Regions from separate parts of the Homo sapiens genome. Here regions 1 and 3 are each reported to be linked to region 2. Evidence: microRNA targets listed by miRTarBase, many of them from high-throughput screens and not tested one by one. Region 2 holds a microRNA gene; each other region holds the end of a gene's coding sequence.
The links. Region 2 holds the annotated microRNA hsa-miR-26a-5p (UUCAAGUAAUCCAGGAUAGGCU, at 1,591-1,612, shown strand). A microRNA usually pairs through its seed, bases 2 to 8, with sites in the 3' UTR of a target mRNA and lowers its output. Matches are read on the target gene's strand: a 7mer-m8 pairs with bases 2 to 8, a 7mer-A1 pairs with bases 2 to 7 and ends in A, and an 8mer does both.

Region 1 (3,000 bases), not on the chromosome of region 2:
TTGCCCCAGTAAATAAATAAATAAATAATTTAAAACTGTTTGGTAATTTCAGCACTTGTAATTGGATCTTTCCTATCAGGCTGCAAGTCATATGATGTAGTTCTATAAAGACTGTTGGTAATATTATGGTTTTATTTTGAATTTGTATGTTATTATTATTATGTTACCATCCAGAGAATTATTTGCATTCATACTCACAGGAAATTGGTTTTTATTTTCTTTTTAAAGAAAACTGAACTGAGGAAAATGGTGTTTTCCTCAAGAAGACTACTGGAACTGGATGACCTCAGAATGAACTGGATTGTGGTGTTCACAAGAAAATCTTAGTTTGTGATGATTACATTGCTTTTTGTTGTCCAGTAGTTTAGTTTGTGTACATATATACACATATATATTTTGCACTACACAAACGATAACATTTTAAGGACTAATATTGCTGATACTTGAATAATCAATCTCTACTAGGTTATAAGTAGTATACACAGATTTACCCTGCCCTTGAACTTGAAGGACATTAAATTATTAATGATCATTTGGTAACATGTTTACCTGATTATCTTCCATAGAGTAACATAAGCTGCTTTTCAAAGGTACCATTGTGATAATGAGATCAAATTTATAAGTTATTATTTTTAATTTTCTAAATTAAATAAAAGAAAGAATGCAAACCAGGAGTGAATTTCAAATGAGATGTAATCGACTTTATATCTTAGTCACGGAGTTGCCATGGCATGTAGTAGAAAACCACAGGAAGAATGGTCATATTCACTTTGTGGGCTGCCCATAATCTTTCTTGGGCATTCACAACTCTTGAGTTTGGTGTTCAGGCATCATTATTAAAAAGTGGAGTCCTATGTACCAGACTGAGTTTTTACAAATGATTTGCAGGCTAGACATAACCCACTGATGGAAATGGTGAAGAATGAGCTTCATGTAGGTTTAAAAGTGTATTCTGAGCCTGTAGATGATTAATCAGGTTTTTATTCAATCATATAAATGTATTCCTTTGTAATCATTTTTGTTTAACTGAGGATATCTAGTGTCTGCTTCATAGGGTGCTTTGAAATATAAAATGAAAACTTATTTATACTGTTTTTACAACAGTCAAAAAGGAAACACACGAAAATCACTTTTCTGCAACTGATGAACTATATAGACTGGACTCTTAACCTCTTAGTGCCTCAGTTTTTCCTTCGGGGTATACTATTTTAGATACACCTACTTCACAGGAGTACTGGAGGGATTTGCAAGCTAACGGGCCAAATGCTTCCATAGGAATAAGGCATGCCCAGCTAACAGAAATTTAAGTCCCTCTTCCCCACCTCTCTCATCTAGACCAAAAAGAAGACTACAATTTAGATCCTTGGAGACTTTTCCTGTATGCCTTCCAAAACTTCCTGCTCACTTAGATGTACCTTGTGCTTTGAAGATTTCTTTGATGCAGTCTTTGTAACAAATAATTTTTTTTTTTAAATGGAGTTTCTCTCTTGTTGCCCAGGCTGGAGGGCAATGGCGTGATCTTGGCTCACTGCAACTTCCACCTCCTGGGTTCAAGTGATTCTCCTGCCTCACTCCCAAGTAGCTGGGATTACAGGCATGCACCACCATGCCTGGCTAATTTTGTATTTTTAGTAGAGACGGGGTTTCTCCATGTTGGTAAGGCTGATCTCAAACTCCCAACCTCAGGTGATCTGCCTGCCTCGGCCTCCCAAAGTGCTGGGATTAGAGGCGTGAGCCACTGCACCTGGCCTGTAGCAAATAATTTTTAAGCATTCTCAAGATGTATGATGTTGGGTTTAACATCATATGTTCACAGTGTTTTAAATAAGAAATAATCTGTCTTTAGTATACAGAATGGTTCTTTGTTTGCCTGAAAAGTATAAGAATACAATTTACTTTTCCCAAACTCTTTTTCCTTATTTTTTTCTTTCAAATAACTTTAATTATTTAATCCCATACTGATTAAAATATGTCTGTCTAAAGGGATCTACTACTATTTGCTTTTAAAAAAGTGTTCCCTATTTATTTAGGAAAAAGTGAAGCAAGCAACTGAATTTATATGTAAAAATAACATTTAGACCTGTGGATCAAAGATTATTTTCAAAAATGAGATATCAATTTGGTATCAGTAAAAAGTGTCTTTTCTCTTAGTATATAAATAAATAAAATGCAAATTAAGAGTGTAAGCAGTTGTGAATCATTACAAGCAGTCTGGGATAACTAACTCCTAGGGATAACCATTTCTATCCTGTTCCAAAGTCTTATTTTATAGTTTGAAAAGCACTTTGCACACAGTTCTTGTATATAAAAGTAAAGATGTAATTATAGGATATAGTGTTCCTGCTTTGTTTAATAAGAACCTCATTTAAACTTGACAGCTATGGTATTTTTTTAATGATAACTTCTTTTCTGTTTATTGTAAAACTAAGTTAAAAATAAAAGGTTAATGAGAAATGATATGGCTTTTATTACTTGTTACTATTAGCCCATTGATTAGGTAAGAATTCAATGAGAGTAAGTAGTAGTCGCACATAAAGTAATTATGACTCTCAAAATAAAGCCATGCTATTCCACACAATTTGATAAAAATCAGAAACTGGGATGAAATTTAACTTATTTAGTCATCTGGTTGAGAATATTAGCAATCCAGTCAGATTCTTGGTTTTACTTTTTTTTGAGACAGAGTCTCGCTCTGTTGCCAGGCTAGAGTGCAGTGGCGTGATCTCGGCTCACTGCAACCTCCGCCTCTCAGGTTCAAGCGATTCTCCTGCCTCAGCCTCCCGAGTAGCTGGGAGTACAGGCACGTGCCACCACTCCCGGCTAATTTTTGTATTTTTAGTAGAGACGGGGTTTCACCACGTTGGCCAGGATGGTTTCCATCTCTTGACCTCGTGATCTACCCGCCTCGGCCTCCCAAAGTGCTGGGATGACAGGCGTGAGCCACTGCACCCAGCCGGTTTCAGTTCTTACACCAAATAAATAGCTTCCCACAGCCACACA
Region 2 (3,193 bases):
CACCCATCTCAGGGCTTGGGTTCTGTCAGTTGATCCCTTTTCTATAACTCCAGCCTCCCCTTTTTATTGGTATCTTTCACTCAAGGCTTTCTCACCTTAAAAAAAGAGTTTCAGCCCCATATCCCACCCAGCTGTCTCCCTTGTTTTCTCTTTGCAACCAAGCTGTTTAAAAGAATAGTTTACATTTTATTTAATAATAATAATAGCTATCGTTTGTTAACCACCATCCCCTCACGTGGCCAGCACTGTTAAATGATTTATTACATTTCTCTGTTCCTTAAGAAAGGTATCTATACCTGTTAAGATACCTTAACCAGGTATCTCTTTGCCTGTAACAGGCAGGGAAATCAGTAGTAACCATTTTCTCTGCCCGGAATGCCCTCTTGCCCATGCTCCCCCTGCCACCCCCACTGTGAATAGCTAGTGACTTTCTTCCTCCCCAGCCCAGACATCTCCTCCTCTGTGAAGCCTTCTCTGACTGCCTTCCCTGGGGCCCTCCATTGGATTCTGCCTGAGGAAGTGCTCAGTGTGTGTCTGTCAATGTAAAGAGCACTCAAATCTAAACAGACCAGGCTCCAGCCTGCAGCCCAGGCAGTCCCAGGTTAAGGATCATGTGACACTGCTAGTGAAAGACCATTTACTCAGCTTGCTTGCCCAGAAGGCCTGCCATGCCCAGCGCCAGGCCCCGGTCAGGACTAGGCTTGGTCCAGCAGCCCTTTGACAGTCTAGCTGAGGGTATAGGGATGTGCTAAACCCTTGTAGAAAAGATGAAGGCATATTTTCAAACAGATATACACTGTGAACTCCTGGCTAACAAGGAAGGGTATGAATAATTTTTAAAAGGATGAGATTAAAATGAGGGAGCACTACCTGCCCAAGGTGGGTGAAAGGATGCCAGACTTGATGAAAGCTGGGATGAGGAAGGGGCTTGTTGGAGGTCGAAGGAATGGCAGGCTAACAGAAGTTAAGTTGTGGCTGCCTAGAACAGAGGGTTCCTGCAGAGCTCTGAGTGGTCTGGTGAGTTGGTGGCCAGTTCAGGCCTACTCTAGGAGGGAGAGTCACAGCAGGCCGACTCTCTTTGAGCTCGGGAGTAATGCAGGTAAAGGAGCTTTGGGAGTCAGGTGCCGTGGCTTACACCTGTCATCCCAACACTCTGGGAGGCCAAGGCAGGAGGAATGCCTGAGCCCACAAGTTCACAACCAGCCTGGCCTCACATAGCAAGACCCCATCTCTAAAAAAAATAAGTAAATAAAGAAAAGAAAAAGGACCTTTTTGGAAATGGTTCTAGTAGCAGCTGTGTAGGCTAGAGTCATGGAAGCAATAGAATGCAGACCGATGGGGGGTCAGGTGGCCAAAGGACTTCCCAAAATGTGCAAGATCGTAAGGGTGGACAAAGGTGTTAGTGGTGGCTGGCAGAAGCAAGCACAAGATCGGGTGCAGAGCAAGACTCGGCAGGGTGTCTGTCTAGTCTATGGTCATTGAGGGGAAAAAGTCACTTCTCCCTGGTGCAATTCATTACCTAATCATGACCTGGACAGACTGTCCTGTCGGAGCCAAGGACAGAAAGCTCCCATAGAGGCTGTGGCTGGATTCAAGTAATCCAGGATAGGCTGTTTCCATCTGTGAGGCCTATTCTTGATTACTTGTTTCTGGAGGCAGCTGATGGTCCGCCGCCGGAAACAGAGATGGCTCCTGGGACATGGTGTGTGCGCTTCTTCCTGAGCCAGGTTGAGGTTGGGACCACTGATCCATTGGAAGCCTGGTGAGGGGTACAGCCAGTTCTCCGGGTCTGTGGGGTCTCAGGGGGCCGCAGGCTTCCAGCCAGGTAGCCCAGGAGGCTGGGCTGCAGGGGTTGAGAGCTCCTTGCTGCTGTGTAACTGGTGAAGGTACCCAGTACTGCAAACCTTCATCACAGGGATGCCTCCAACAGGCTGCTCTGCTCTTCCTCAGGTGTATGTGCTCAAGAGGCCTTATGTGGATGAGTTCCTGAGACGCATGGGGGAACTCTTTGAATGTGTTCTCTTCACTGCCAGCCTGGCCAAGGTACCTAGGGGTGAGAGGGAAGAACCAGGAGTGGGTGTGGTGGCCACGGGGGTGGTCCAGCAGCTCCCTTTTGGTCCCTAGGGTTATACAGGAGGACCAGGAGTGTATCCAAACTAAGGCATCTTCTCTCCTCCTAGTATGCCGACCCTGTGACAGACCTGCTGGACCGGTGTGGGGTGTTCCGGGCCCGCCTATTCCGTGAGTCTTGCGTGTTCCACCAGGGCTGCTACGTCAAGGACCTCAGCCGCCTGGGGAGGGACCTGAGAAAGACCCTCATCCTGGACAACTCGCCTGCTTCTTACATATTCCACCCCGAGAATGCAGTGAGTGCTCCTGATGCGTCTCCACGGTAGGGATTGGGAGAGGAAGCAGACTGGAACTGTGGGCTCCACCAGAGAAGTACACCCCTCCAGGAAGACCCAGCCACCCTCTAGGGCTCTGGGGCGAGGGAGGGGGAAGCAGCAGTCGGGAGATTGACACCACATCTTCCCCCCACCAGGTGCCTGTGCAGTCCTGGTTTGATGACATGGCAGACACTGAGTTGCTGAACCTGATCCCAATCTTTGAGGAGCTGAGCGGAGCAGAGGACGTCTACACCAGCCTTGGGCAGCTGCGGGCCCCTTAGCCTGCCCTGCTTCCAAGCGACGGCCATCCCAGTAGGGGACTTTCCCACACTGTGCCTTTACGATCAGCGTGACAGAGTAGAAGCTGGAGTGCCTCACCACACGGCCCGGAAACAGCGGGAAGTAACTGGAAAGAGCTTTAGGACAGCTTAGATGCCGAGTGGGCGAATGCCAGACCAATGATACCCAGAGCTACCTGCCGCCAACTTGTTGAGATGTGTGTTTGACTGTGAGAGAGTGTGTGTTTGTGTGTGTGTTTTGCCATGAACTGTGGCCCCAGTGTATAGTGTTTCAGTGGGGGAGAAGCTGAAAGACCAAGACTCTTCCCAAGTTAGCTTGTCTCCTCTCCTGTCACCCTAAGAGCCACTGAGTTGTGTAGGGATGAAGACTATTGAAGACTCCATTGCCAAACCATGGCCTTTCCTCAGTGTTGTAAGGCCTATGCCAAGGATAAAGGAAGGGTATGCCTTTGGGTACTCCAGGCACACACCTTTCTGAAATCCTTCTCCAGCCAGCTGCTGCAGACA
Region 3 (3,000 bases), not on the chromosome of region 2:
TTGAACTGAGGCAGCTTTTAAAAGACTTGCCTGATCATTTAGAGCACTCCCATTGAGGTTAAATTAGACTTGAATCTGTAATGATTCTCGTAACTGTTCCTGGTGTGTGTCCAGCACAATGTTGCTGGGCAGAGCAGAGGGGCAGAGGCTCAGGTATGTACTTCATTGACAAGTGGGCAAGGCCATCCTGGGTACCACATTGGCTTAATGATCTCTTCATTGTGAAGTCCGGCTACCTCGTTTGCATAAGAACTACAGTAATCAGGCAAGGCATTGTCAGAATTGGGAGGAATAAAATCAGTGAGTCTGGAAGGAGTGCTCTGTATACAATTGCAAAGAACAAAATGGTCATCTTTAAGGTACCTGATTGCATGCACTTAAATGCAGATTATTTTGGAGTTTGAAAAGGGACTATTAATGAAATCTTTCTTTTCCCTCCTTTCTCTTTTTCCCTTCCCCGCCACTGATTCAGTGAGCTGGAGATTGGATCACAGGTATAATTCAAGCTTTTCATGTAGTCATGTAGATCACTAGACTCCTTGGTGTACTGACGTAGCAATTTAAAAGCAGATCATGTGTAGTACATCTAGAAGTAGATTTACAAATATTCTGAAGAGTTGTAACCTTTTAAAATACTAACAGTGACATGGTTTTGTTTTTAAGGTTTAGCAATATTTAGCCCATTATTTTTGTTTTATTCTTAACTTGAATGTTTGTAAATTTTATTTCTTGATGCTTTCATTGTGTTATGATAACATCAAAATAACTTGATATTCTAGGTTACTAATAATTGTTGTGCATGAGTGTTACTACTTTTGGAATTGAAGACTTTAAAGAATTTTAAAGGCAGTTGTTGACTAAACTTCTTTCTCTTGATTCACAGCCGAAGGAGTAAAGGTGCTGCAATGATGTTAGCTGTGGCCACTGTGGATTTTTCGCAAGAACATTAATAAACTAAAAACTTCATGTGTCTGGTTGTTTGAAATGTATTTGCAGTTTCCTGGGACTGCTAGGAGGTTAGTCTGCTGATTTCAGTTGCTGTCCAAGTTCACATGCTCCATGAAGCATTCAGTGAAAACTTAATGTCATGGGGTGGTGTTTGTTTGCTGCTTGGTTTATAGCTTAGGTGGGTTCATCTGGGAGTCAAGCTTGTAAATGCTGTGTTAAGAACCATGTCCGCGGTGGACGCAGTGTAGTGGCTCACAGTCATCAGCACTTTTGGGAGGTTTGGGTGGGATGATTACACTTAAGCCCAGGAGCTCGAGGCTACAGTGAGGTGTTTTTTTTTTCGAGACAGGGTCTAGCTTTGTTACCTAGGCTGGTCTTGATTGAACTCGGGCTCAAGCGATCCTCCTACCTTGGCCACATAAAGTACTGGCATGAGCGACCACGTCTGGCTTAGAGTCTAAAAAGTACCATGTCTGGATAAACTGGAGAAATCTCAGGAAGCAGTAGAGAGCTGAAAGACTTGGTTGGGCATGAAGGGGACTCAGGAAAAGCAATACCGTGAAGGCAGAAGGGTTGAGGTTGCAGGAAGGAAGGGTAGTGGAATGTTTTGGAGAAAAGATGGTCACAGCCCCTGCATGGAGCACCTACAGACAGGAGGGCAGGGCTGAGAAGAGTTAAGTCATGGGGCTGGGCCTGCTGGCCAGGGGGTGGTTGGAGTTCTGTTTTCATATCTACAGAGGCTGTGTACTTCGGTTTGTGGGGCCTCTGGCCCTGTAGGTTCTCTTGCTAAGGAATCTGCTACTACTTTGCTAGGACCAGGAAATGGCTTACTAGTACAGAACGTGTGGAAGAATGGGGTCTTTGATGTGATTTGACATTTTTTGATGAACAGTGCATACCAGGCTGAAGGTAATGCTAGGGGCAGCAAAGGTTGGGGTTTGAGATGCAGTTTCCTGTGACTGAGCTGGAGTGTGGAAGCAGAGAAGGCACCCTGTGAGCAGCTTGCAGAGGCAAGGTGGTGAGGATCCTGACAGTGCTGCAGGGATGGGATGGGATGGGATGGGACAGGACGTGGAGCTGGGGGTGGTTGCTAAGTTGATGCAGGGAGAGTGGAAGGAAGCAATTGAGAACTGAAGGGTAGGAAATAGTTTCTGATGTGAAGAAAAAGGGCATAGCTGCAGAGAGCCTGAATGATTGAAGGTTGGCATCAAAGTCACGAAGTGGGGAGGCTTTTCTGTTCAGCTGTGCTCAGGGCAGAAGTTGTAGTCTTTCAGCCAGTAGCCTTGGGAAGGGAGGTGGGATGAAACTCAGGCTTGGCCTATTTTTCCAGAGGATCCACTTGGGTTGTGATATTATAGAAAATGTGGCAGTCTTGCTGTGAGCCTTGTTAGGCATAACATTTGGAAACTTGGCAAATTTTACGTAAAGGTCTGGATTTCCAGCCTCTTGAAATACCAGAAGCAGCAGTAGTAGCCCACCTTCCTGTTTGATAACAATTGGCAGGGCTCCAGGCTGGCTGCATCTGTTGGGACAGGTATTCTCTGGTCTCCACAGCCTTTGCTCCTACGGCCAGCTAACACCCTCCTCTACCTGCCCTCTGGTCTTCTGTCCCTGCTGCCTGCTTCTCTTCCATCTAGTCCATCCAAGTGTTTTTTGGGGAAGTCACCTGGTACCTTGTTAGGGTTAATTTGTCTTTTAAATTGGGCTCCCAAGGGTATCTGCTAGCTACCCTGGCTCACAAGGCTATTTTGAGGCTGAGGATGTAACAACTGTGAAAACAGTTTGGAAACTAGTGCTAAGCAATTGTTTGTCAGGAAGCAGGGACTTGTGGGAACTCAAACTGTGGACAGATTCAGCACATTGTAGGCCCTCACAGTAACCAGGCTACCCTGTGCTGTCAGCAGGCTTTGGAAGAGCCTCCATAAAATGCAAACTTGACTTTACTAAGCTGAATCAATATTGAGGGAGCACATCCCTTCCTTCAGCTTGTCACTGATGGGAAGCTGTGGCTTAGAGAGAGCAGGGATCTTTGAAGAGTGATGAGAAACTCAG

Region 1: miRTarBase lists ACBD5 as a target of hsa-miR-26a-5p. Seed matches in the 3' UTR shown: 8mer at 441-448 and 7mer-A1 at 503-509.
Region 3: miRTarBase lists RPS24 as a target of hsa-miR-26a-5p. The part of its 3' UTR that is shown has no 7-base or 8-base seed match.

The regions. Positions count from the first base shown.
Region 1 is chr10:27,194,671-27,197,670 of GRCh38, reverse strand. It overlaps ACBD5 (acyl-CoA binding domain containing 5), which reads left to right. Exons shown (of 13, transcript NM_145698.5): 13 at 229-2,457. The coding sequence ends at 241. Among named protein-coding and RNA genes, the nearest start is that of MASTL, 41 kb to the right of the region's middle.
Region 2 is chr12:57,823,077-57,826,269 of GRCh38, reverse strand. MIR26A2 (microRNA 26a-2) reads left to right here and starts at 1,578; the gene lies at 1,578-1,661. CTDSP2 (CTD small phosphatase 2) reads left to right here. Exons shown (of 8, transcript NM_005730.4): 6 at 1,951-2,043; 7 at 2,181-2,366; 8 at 2,543-3,193. The coding sequence ends at 2,668.
Region 3 is chr10:78,039,732-78,042,731 of GRCh38, forward strand. RPS24 (ribosomal protein S24) reads left to right here. Exons shown (of 6, transcript NM_033022.4): 5 at 473-494; 6 at 884-966. The coding sequence ends at 475. Among named protein-coding and RNA genes, the nearest start is that of RPS24, 7.4 kb to the left of the region's middle. RefSeq lists enhancers at 1-169, 170-679, 1,000-1,501, 1,570-1,619, 2,900-3,000.